Regions from separate parts of the Homo sapiens genome. Here regions 1, 2 and 4 are each linked to region 3. The links come from fine-mapping of genetic effects on gene expression. A gene starts in region 3. Each other region holds a variant in brackets. All regions are shown on one strand. Distances are between the middles of the regions.

Evidence for each region.
Region 1: its variant is fine-mapped to the expression of SH3BP5 in whole blood (TOPMed, PIP 0.95). The same link has a PIP of 0.9 or more in blood mononuclear cells.
Region 2: its variant is fine-mapped to the expression of SH3BP5 in whole blood (TOPMed, PIP 0.99). The same link has a PIP of 0.9 or more in blood mononuclear cells.
Region 4: its variant is fine-mapped to the expression of SH3BP5 in fibroblasts (GENCORD, PIP 0.95).

The regions. Positions count from the first base shown.
Region 1 is chr3:15,256,878-15,259,519 of GRCh38, reverse strand. It overlaps SH3BP5 (SH3 domain binding protein 5), which reads left to right. Exons shown (of 9, transcript NM_004844.5): 7 at 470-689; 8 at 2,407-2,642. It overlaps SH3BP5-AS1 (SH3BP5 antisense RNA 1), which reads right to left. Exons shown (of 3, transcript NR_046084.1): 1 at 1,914-2,642; 2 at 1-886. Among named protein-coding and RNA genes, the nearest start is that of SH3BP5-AS1, 4.0 kb to the right of the region's middle. The variant A/G (reference allele first, on the strand shown) is at 1,590.
Region 2 is chr3:15,303,241-15,305,882 of GRCh38, reverse strand. SH3BP5 (SH3 domain binding protein 5) reads left to right here. Exons shown (of 9, transcript NM_004844.5): 3 at 1,652-1,780. Among named protein-coding and RNA genes, the nearest start is that of SH3BP5, 28 kb to the left of the region's middle. The variant C/T (reference allele first, on the strand shown) is at 1,466.
Region 3 is chr3:15,331,164-15,333,805 of GRCh38, reverse strand. It overlaps SH3BP5 (SH3 domain binding protein 5), which reads left to right and starts at 1,220. Exons shown (of 9, transcript NM_004844.5): 1 at 1,220-1,535. The coding sequence starts at 1,398. RefSeq lists silencers at 1,112-1,511, 1,592-1,651.
Region 4 is chr3:15,225,659-15,228,158 of GRCh38, reverse strand. CAPN7 (calpain 7) reads right to left here. Exons shown (of 21, transcript NM_014296.3): 7 at 194-320. Among named protein-coding and RNA genes, the nearest start is that of CAPN7, 21 kb to the right of the region's middle. The variant T/C (reference allele first, on the strand shown) is at 1,254.

The DNA.
Region 1 (2,642 bases), 74 kb after region 3:
CTTAGGACCAGCAGCATCAGCATCACCTGGAGACCTGATAGACCAGGTCCCACTCTAGACCGACTGAATTAGAAACTCTGAGGTTGGAGTCTAGTGAGCTGAGTCTTAACACCCAAGGGGATTTTGATGCAAGCTCAACTTTGAGAACCACTGTACTGGGAACCAGATGTCTAGACTGTGGGACTTTGGTGTGTCTGATGCCCATTTTTGCTTCCCTGATGGGGTTTGTTCCACCAGTGAGAGTTTTTGGATATTAGAGGTTGTCACCTGGATGGGATCTGGGGATGGTGGTGGCTGATTTTGTCTGGTGAATGAATAGCAGTTACAATGGTAATTAGGTCTTCAGTCATGTCTTGGAAAATTCCTTGAAGTAGAATGATGGGCAGAAAATGTACTTGAACCTGTCATTCAGAAAGCATCTTAAGGCTAGCAGGGTAGTCTTCACTTAGTCTCCTGTTCTCTTGATCAGCAACTGAAAAAGACTGTGGATGACCTGCAGGCCAAACTGACCCTGGCAAAAGGCGAGTACAAGATGGCCCTGAAGAACCTGGAGATGATCTCAGATGAGATCCACGAGCGGCGGCGCTCCAGTGCCATGGGGCCTCGGGGATGCGGTGTTGGTGCTGAGGGCAGCAGCACATCTGTGGAGGATCTGCCAGGGAGCAAACCTGAGCCTGATGCCATTTCTGGTAAGTCAGGGGCTCCACTGGGTATGTGGGGAGATATCAGACTGTGTGATTTGTTTCCCAAGGTCCTCACTTTCTCTGGCCATCAGTGAAAGGTCTCAGAGTTGGGCAGGCCTGAGGGCTATTTCTGGTGGGTTCCCATGTTTTATGGAACACTGTGTTCATTAAGAAGGTACTAAGTGTTCCTCAAAGTCAGGATTCTGTGGTCAAATAAATTGGGAAAATGTTACACCTTCACTCCTCTTTGAGAGTCAAAGTATACATTTGAACATTCAAGGCTGAGAAGTCCTGCAGGAAAGAAGAGCTGTAATCAGATTTGATTCAAAGCTACCTTTACATCATTACTAAGGCATGATGTGGGCAAGGGCCTAACTTTGTATTTCAGTTTCTTCACCTGTAAAATGGGGAGTATGACGCTATCTACTGTATACTATCCGTTGTGTAGGGTGGTGGTTCAGCTTACATGAATCAACCCCTGACACCCAAGAAGCACTCAGCAAATGGTGGCTCTTACTGACATCTGACCATAGAGACCTCTTTTCCCAGGGCCTCCCCCTGGAAAACTGATAGAAGTTTGACTTGGTTTCTGTCATGCTCATCAAGAAAACCCACCCAACGCTGTCTTTGCATACTTCCTTTCTTTTCCTTACCTGTGCAATAATCCCTGTCGGCTCTTTCCCAAGCTCCTTCCTCAGGAGTTAATTCCTTCAACAAATATTTAAGTACTAGGTTCAAGGTAAAGGAAAAGGAAACTATCATTTGAACAACTACTATGTATGAGGTACTTTAATATATACATCATCTCAAACCCTGCATGGAGAGGATCATGAAGCTTACAGAGGTAAAGTAACTTGACCAAGGTCACACAGCAAGTAGTGGAGTTAGGGATTCAATTCAGGTCTG[A/G]GCCCATTTTCTGTCCCCAACATTACAGTATTTATCATTTATAAGAAACCTTTATGGAATGCTACAAGGCTGTTTTTAAAGAGAAAGGGGGGGAAAAATGGAGTAGGAAAGTTCTAATAAGGAGTGGGATTGTGGGCAGGCTGAGGGAAAACCGCTAAAGGCCAAAGAGGCTTTGAAACCATGGGAATAACATGTGTCTGGGCCTTGTTACTTTGGTCTACCAAATAATGTGGCTACAGAGCATTGTAAAGGATTTCTGTTCTTTTGCAGCAAATGGTGATGTGGGTAGCCTTTGAGTGTGTTCTTTATGAGATCAGAAGTTACCTGGAGATAACAAAGGTCCCAACAGATGTTCCATGCTGGCCTGTTTCTTCTAGCAGCTCTTGCTTCTATTGCCCTAAGAAAGAAGCCTGAGTCCAGCTGGCTTTGTTTGGGATATGTTACAGAGGACTAGAACCTCTTCCTGTGCACATGAGGATGTATTTGGGGGACTGAGGTGGAGTAAAGGTCCTAATTTGTGGCTGAATTAATCTTCCATTTTTAGGTGGTGTCTGGTGACACTGATTTCTTGGCAGGGTTATAAGGTTATTGGAAGGGCGCTTAATATCCATGGGATCCTGCTGCCAGCTGCTTCCCTTCCAGCTGCTTTAGAGGCTGGTCATTCAGGCTTGGGAAGTCACATTCCTTCATTAGGCACTCACAGAGGTAGAGACTCTTTAGTCCCCCATGCTGTGTCTAGCTGCCTGCCAGCAGCAAGCACTTGTGGTGTTTGAGGAGGTGACAGAACCCATGTGACTGGTGTTCTCTCTCAACTTAGTGGCCTCGGAGGCCTTTGAAGATGACAGCTGTAGCAACTTTGTGTCTGAAGATGACTCGGAAACCCAGTCCGTGTCCAGCTTTAGTTCAGGACCAACAAGCCCGTCTGAGATGCCTGACCAGTTCCCTGCGGTTGTGAGGCCTGGCAGCCTGGATCTGCCCAGCCCTGTGTCCCTGTCAGAGTTTGGGATGATGTTCCCAGTGTTGGGCCCTCGAAGTGAATGCAGCGGGGCCTCC
Region 2 (2,642 bases), 28 kb after region 3:
GATCTGGTTTCTTGACTTTTACAACATGATTAAGCCTTGCACAGTCCTTCTTTGCCTTCCTAACTCCTATCAAGGTCCAAGTTGCTAGTTGCTGTCGCCAGGATGGATGGCCACCCTTATCTCTTGCCATTCTCCACATTCCAGACCTCCGGCCTCCTTCAGTTTCTTGCAGACACCATGCTGTTCCCATTCCCCTCTTATCTGGACACAGGCTCTGCTGCCTGCTTGGGACTCAGTATTTTCCTCCCCTCCCCCAATTTCCTATTCATGCTTTGGACTTCTGTTTAGATAGTACTCCTCTGGAAGTTTCCTGTGACTCTCCCTCTAATACATGGTCTGGCGCCATTCTTCCCTGCTGAGTTCCATGGCGACTGGACCATTCCCACCCTGGCACTGACTTTTCTGGAACGGGCTGTAATACCTACCTCACCCACCAGGCTGTAAGTGCCCTGGAGACAGGGCCACGCCCAAGGCCCAGCACCAGGTCTGGCATGTGGTAAATAAATAAATAAATTTGCACTCAGTGTTTAACATTGACAGCATCATTTGGACTGAAGCTGTCAGAGATGGCTGGACATTCTTCCCCAGATAGAGGTTTGGTCAGTGTTGAATCTATGTCTCTGATTAAAGTCCTGAGCTTTGACAACATGCTGTCCAGAGGTCCTGGACAAAGCTTTTTAATCTATACCGTGCTATGCAATATAGTAGTTGCTAGCCATGTTAATTAAAAAATTTTAAATATAATGAATTAATTTTTTTTTTTTTTGAGACAGTGTCTCACTCTGTCACCCAGGCTGCAGTGCAGTGGCACGATCTCGGCTCACTGCAACCTCTGCCTCCTGATTCAAATGATTGTCCTGCCTCAGCCTCCTGAGTAGCTGGGATTACAGGTGTCCCCCACTATGCCCGGCTAATTTTTGTATTTTTAGTAGAGACGGGCTTAATTTCCAAAGGGTCCATCCTACCGATATCTCCCCCACAGTGCACAGCATGTTGTGCACATACACAGTAGGTGCTCAGAAACTTTGCGTTGTTGTTGCTTACTAAGCTTTTTTTTTTTTTTTTTTTGAGACAGAGTCGTGCTCTGTCACCCAGGCTGGAGTGCAGTGGCATGATCTTGGCTCACCACAAGCTCTGTCTCCTGGGTTCAAGAGATTCTTGTGCCCCAGCCTCCTGAGTGGCTGGGACAGCAGGTACCTGCTACCACGCCTGGCTAATTTTTGTATTTTTAGTAGAGATGGGGTTTTGCCATGTTGGCCAGGCTGGTCTCCAACTCCTGACCTCAAGTGATGGGCCTGCCTCGGCCTCCCAAAGTGCTGGGATTACAGGCGTGAGCTACCACACCCGAGATGATTAAAATTAAATAAACTAAAAACTCCTTTCCTCAGTCACACCGGCCAGTTTTAAGTGCTCAGTAGCCACACGTGGCTGGTGGCCGCCACACTGCACTGTGCAGAGCACAGGA[C/T]GTTTCCGCCGTGGCAGGAAGCTGTTTTGGGCGGTGCTGCTCTAGACACTGTCTTGTAAAGGTGCTACTTTAGGGGTCTGTACGTTGGGTAAAGTCCTTTGTTGATGTTTCTGTCTAGGTCCAGTAGGTGTTTGCAGATCCCTTCTTAAGCCTCAACTGTGTTTCCTCGGTTTCCCCTGGCTGCAGGATGCTCGTCAGAAGTTCCGCTCTGTTCTGGTTGAAGCAACGGTGAAACTGGATGAACTGGTGAAGAAAATTGGCAAAGCTGTGGAAGACTCCAAGCCCTACTGGGAGGCACGGAGGGTGGCGAGGCAGGTAAGATAGCCCCATAGATGTCTCCCCTACCTCGAGCCTCACTACCCCTCAGTTTTAAGGGTGCCTTTGACTGTATCACCTGCTGAAGGTTAGAAGCTCGAGTCCAATATGTCTTAAATGCAGTGACCCACCGCCCCGCAATCTGCTTCATTCCAGTGCTCGACACTATTAATAGGGTGTGAGTGCTGGCATTTGGATGACCCTGCAAGTGGGTGCTCTCCCTGAGTTGGTGCTGAGTGCACTTAAGGGGACGTGTCCAGAGGGTGTTCCTCCTCCGCTCCTAATGACAACCTGTCAGACAGCAGTAGGAAGATTCGCTTACTGCCTCGCGTTCGCCTCACTCTTGGGAGTGTTTAGCCTTCTGCTTCTCTTGAAACATCGGTTCTTCTTCTTTTTCTTTTTTTTTTTTTCCTTTTTAAGATTTGGCAGGTGAGTTGTTATACACTCCTTAGCGGATTCTGACTTCCGTGGCCATCGTCCTGCTGAAACTTTGGTTCTTTGTCCTGAGAGCCCAAATAAGAAGCAGTGAAACGGAGACCAGAAGGGGAGTGGCGGAGGGGACTGTGATCAGGCGATTGCTGGGGGCTGCGTGGAAATGGGTTCTGGTTTAGGAGTTGGTCTTCCTTTGGCTGCTGTGTGACGCGATGTGCCACTTGTGTCACCTGCAGCCTCTGATAGCCAGGCCCTGTGAATGGGGAAGGTAAAGAGCCCTCAACAGTTACTAGTACCTGCTGTGTGGCAGGCTCTGGGCTGGGGGCTTTATTCACCTTCCTCAGCCTGCTTCGGCTTCCCGATTAGAGAGCTAATGTGAATCACCAACCCTGTGATGCCTCTTGAGATGAGAGTTCAGATTTCCCAAGAA
Region 3 (2,642 bases):
CTGACCTTTTTAGAAACAAACCATGGCACTACCTCCAGGAGACAGGACAAATTTCCTTTGACAGTGGACTACAGTGCCAGCGTGTATGGGGTGGTGCCTTGCCCAAGGAGTAACCCTCTAGCCTAGTTTCTGATAAAACCACCAGGAGCAGGACTATTTATTCATTTGAGAAGGGGTCTGGCTGTATTGTCCAGGCTGGTGTTGAACTCCTGGCCTCAAGTGATCCTTGTGTCCTGGCATCTCAAAGAGCTGGGATTACAGATACGAGCCACCACGTTGTGCCAGACCCAGGTTTTGTAAGGTGGCTTTGATGATAGGTTCTCAGAAAGAAGCTCCTTTCTCAAGCAAATTTGTCCTCCAAACTCAGAGCCGATGGGCTACAGGCCTCCGTGTAGGACATGTGCACGTTCTGCATTTCTCAAGGCAAGGAGACGTGAGCAGCCATGTGCTCATCTGCTTTGCCAAGGTCATCCTTTGCGTTCCCCTGACATCACAGTGGCCCTGACATTTCATAAAAGCACACACACGTGCCTCTTCAGTTTGGCCTTTTCGGATGCTGTGTCTGCCAGGCCAACTCTGTCTCCCTACTTGTTGATGGTGGGCAGAAAGTCTCACTAATTCATAAATTCTTGGCCAGAGTGTGCCCATCAACAGGGGTTACACTTGCCACCTCCTTAAATCCCAGCTCAATGCATTCTCCATGCTCCTGGCTATTCAGGTAGGACCGCCGCACCTCTGTGTTTCGGTATGGGGCTCGCCCAGAGAGGCCGCAGCCTTCGGCAATGCATCAGTGCACGGAACCTCCGCCATTCCCAAGGTTCGCTCAAGAGGATGAGTGTGCTTTGGGTATAGGGTTTCGGCAAGTCTTGGTCCTGAGGGCCAGGGTCACTGAGCGTAGGCTTCAGAAGGCGACTTCAGTGTGAAAACACCCACGCCTCCCTACCACACAAACAACGAGCCTCGGAGGAGGGCTGGAGGAGGGGACTCCCGAAAGCGGGAGGCTTGCGTTACGTAGTTGAGATATATCCGAGCTGCTAAGTTACAAGGGGGTGGGGGCTGTCCTATTTTGCCACCTTGGAGATGTGGAGGGAGCTGGGGTTTTGCGACGGAGACCTGGATAGCTGGGACTGGCGGCGGAACGCGAGGCCGGGGCGGGACGGGGGCGGAGCGGGCGCTGCGCTGACTGCCGCGGCAGAAAGGGGGCGGCCGCGCCCATTTCCTCTGCTCCGCCGCGGCCGGAGGTATCCGCATCGGCGAGCTGCGTCTCCCGGGTGTCGGCCCCGGCGGCTCCCCGACCGTGCCCGGCTGTGGCGAGGCGGCTCCAGCCCAGCCTGTGGCAGCCGCGACCCCCGGGGCGCTCCGGAGCCCACTGCGCGGCGCGCGTGCCGGCTGCCTGCATGGACGCGGCACTGAAGCGGAGCCGCTCGGAGGAGCCAGCCGAAATCCTGCCGCCTGCCCGGGACGAGGAGGAGGAGGAGGAAGAGGGGATGGAGCAGGGGCTGGAGGAGGAAGAAGAGGTGGATCCCCGGATCCAGGTAGGGCGCGCGGGGTCGCCCCGCATCCGGGCTTCGCGAGGGCTGCTACGGAGGTCGGTGTCTACGCGTACAGCCACTTCGCAGCCCCCAGTAACTGTGGTCCGGGGACTGGCGGCCACATAGGGTGGCAGGAGACGGTCTGTATGCTCCGTTTCATCGTCTCCACAATGAGGAGGCTACAGTGCCCGCGTGGATGCGGCCTGACTCTATTGCGGGGAGTCCCCCGCCGACCCGTAGCAGGATCGGGGTCGGTGCAGCGTGCCTGGTGGTTCGGGTGGATGTGCAACAAAGGGAAAAAGGGGGCGGGGGCGCCATGGTATCCTCGGGGGTACCCCTGCCCGGCCGCGGCACCGCGGGCATGGCACGGCGTCCAGGCTCTGCGAGGAGGTGTCGCCCGCGTGGGCGCCGGGCACCGTGGGCGGGTGGGCGTTGCCCTGCAGCGCGGGCTGGCACCGGTGCCCCGGGTGCAGAGTCCTCACTTGCCAAGGTGCCCGGCCTGAGCCGTTTTCCTTCTCTGATTGATTGTTAGCGAACTGAGCGGCTTATTGTCATCACTGGCTCAACGTTCTGCCTGGCTTGAAATTGCTTAAAACCCTGCTTTTCCTTGTTGTGAGGTTGGGCATGAAAAGAAATCGGGGACAACTGATGCGCAAAGCTGACGCGTGGAGGCGGCGAGGGGATTGGGCTGGCTGGCTGTGCCTCCATTTCCAAGAGAGATGATTAAAAAACAATTTCCAAGCCGAGATCTAGGAGTGACAGTTTCACCTCTTCACCCCTAAGCAAAAAGCAGAGCAAATCCCTTTCTAAGGCCCGTTTTTTTTCTACCTTTTCAATAAATCATTTTTTTAAAAAAATTGCTTTTAAGCATGCTCTGTAATTTCTGGATACCTAATTGGTTTTTTAGTGCACAGATCAATTTAAAAGCTCACTTAACTCAGTGGTTGGGGTTTAAATGAATTGTTTTGTCAGCTTAGCAAGATAAAGATCAGGTGGAAAAAAAATCCTTGCATTAGGAATGCTATTAATTAAAGTAATTGGTTTGGAATAAATCGTGTGTTACTGGTATGGGATTATGTTAGCAAGATCCTTTGTTTGCATAGTAATGAT
Region 4 (2,500 bases), 110 kb after region 3:
ATCACTCAAAACAGTGATTTATACTTATATTATCTCAGTATGTTTCAGTCAAAATGTGTAGAATGAACAATTTTTCCAATTACACTTCTGTACCTGAATATATAATAAAAAATCTAAGAAAAAACTCAAATCTATACACAAATTACTTTAAAATGCTGACTTTTCTATAAAATCATACAAAATAAATGCTCACCTGCTTTATGCTAAAACTGGACACAGTATATATCATTGTAGGATTGTTGGTGAGGTCTTCTGGTCGTACCCACTTGGAAAATGTAGTTTTTTGTTTAGGTGATAATGGTAGCTTGCCCCATCTATCACTGAGGTAATAATAAAAATTAAAATAAAAAAATTAATCTTAAAAGATGACTCAAAGCCAAAATTAAATTTCCTAGAGATTTTTTTTTTGGTCTAGTGATTATAGCAGTACTGTATTATCTTAAAATAACCTTCTGGTCAAATCTGGCTCTTTATAGAGTCCAGTCAACCTGATCATCCCCTCCAATTAAAAAATATACCTAAATAATTGAAAACAGAAGAACAACTTAAATTCATTTATATTTAAGAATATAATTTTTTAAATTTAGCATAACTGTATTCAAGAAATTCAGCAATAAAATGAAACCATTAACAATAGTACAAGCTGATTCATTCAAAAGGACCTAGGAAGCTAAAGATTCAAAGCTGGTTTTTTACAAACTCCACTTGGCAAGGCTAATAATGAGTGTAGCTAATTTAGTGAATACTAACCATGTGCCAGGCATCATGCTAAAGTGCTTTACATACATAATCCACTTAATTCTTAAAACAACTCTATTAAAGGAATTATTTTTGGAAATAGCTTAAAGTGATTAATGACTTACCAAGGTCAGACACCTAAGAAACAGCAGAACTGGCATCTGAATCCAGGTCTCTGGTGCCAAATCCACCATTCTTATCCATTACCCTCTACTCACTGTGTGTAACAATGTTTCTCTAAAATTGATGTGTACACCAAGGGGAAACATCTACCTTTCCCCCTTTCCCTAAACTTTTTTTTTTTTTTTTTTAACAGTTGAGGTCTCCATATGTTGCCCAGGCTGCTCTAGAACCTCTGTGCTTAAACGATCCTCCAGCCAAGGCTGATACCAGCCTTCCTGAAGTAAATACCAGAGTGCTGGTATTACAGACACAAGCCACCAGGCCCAACCATCCCCAAACCCTTTCTAGAGCAGAAGCAACAAATCCTTGGTTTTCAAAAGATTTCCTAGTAA[T/C]AGAAAGTATATAATATGCAAACTGGCACAAACATAACTTTTTTTTTTTTCAAAGAATGCTGACAGATACTGGGAGAAGAGAGGATTTTGTGGTCAAGTATGATCTACAAACTCCTGGTTAAAGTATTAGTTTTTTCATTGAAGGACACCTCTAGACTTTAAATAAGCCAATGTTTATTGCAATCTCTTAAAATAGAATATGGCATATAACATATCTCAAACATTTTTTATTATCATCTCACAGAACCACTAGTATTCCAGGTAGCATTTTGGTACCTGTATAATACCAGGAGCTAACTGTAAACAGAAAGTGAGCTAATTGAATTCAGAAGAGTTTAAAGACAGCTCTCAAAAATTTTGAGGAGAAAAAATTAATGCAAATTCAAATTCGTAATCTATTATTAACCTGTCATATGAACCATATTTCAGCATAAATCCAAGATTCCATAATATTTGTTCTCTCAAGTCACTAGAGGATTATTAAATTCAAGGTTTTTTCCCTCAGAACTTAAATATATTAAAAATATTTTACAGCCAGGCGCGGTGGCTCATGCCTGTAATCCCAGCACTTTGGGAGGCTGAGGCGGGCGGATCACTTGAGGTCAGGAGTTTGAGACCAGCCTAGACAACATGGTGAAACCCAGTCTCTACCCAAAATACAAAATTAGTCGGGCGTGTGGTGGGCGCCTGTAATCCCAGTTCCTTGGGAGGCTGAGGCAGAAGAATCTCTTGAATCTGGGAGACGGAGGTTGCAGTGAGCTGAGATCGCACCACTGCACTCTAGCCTGAGTGACAGAGTGAGACTCCATCTCAAAAAATAAAAAATAAAAAAACTTACAATTATAATATTTATTCAATAATGCTTATTTTATTATTTTAAAAGTAATACACGACCGAATAGAAACAATTTTAAAAAATAATTCAATCTCTCTAGCGAAAGATAAATTCTGGAGCCTTTTCCTGATGATCTGTTAACCCAACTTAAAAACATTTACTGTTGCTTTTTCTTCTGATTGTTCCTAAAGTAAAATAATTTAAAAAATAAGAAAATACCGTGCCACTTAGAATAGTAACTTTAGTATTTATTCTTGTTTTTCTCCCAATTTAACTACTTCAAGAAATATTTATTGAATACCTACTATACACCAGATACTGTGGTAGGCACTGGGGTGCAACTTAATTAAAACAGACATGGTCTCTGTCCTTATGAAGTTTATATGCTAGAGTAGCAGACAAGCATTAAGCAA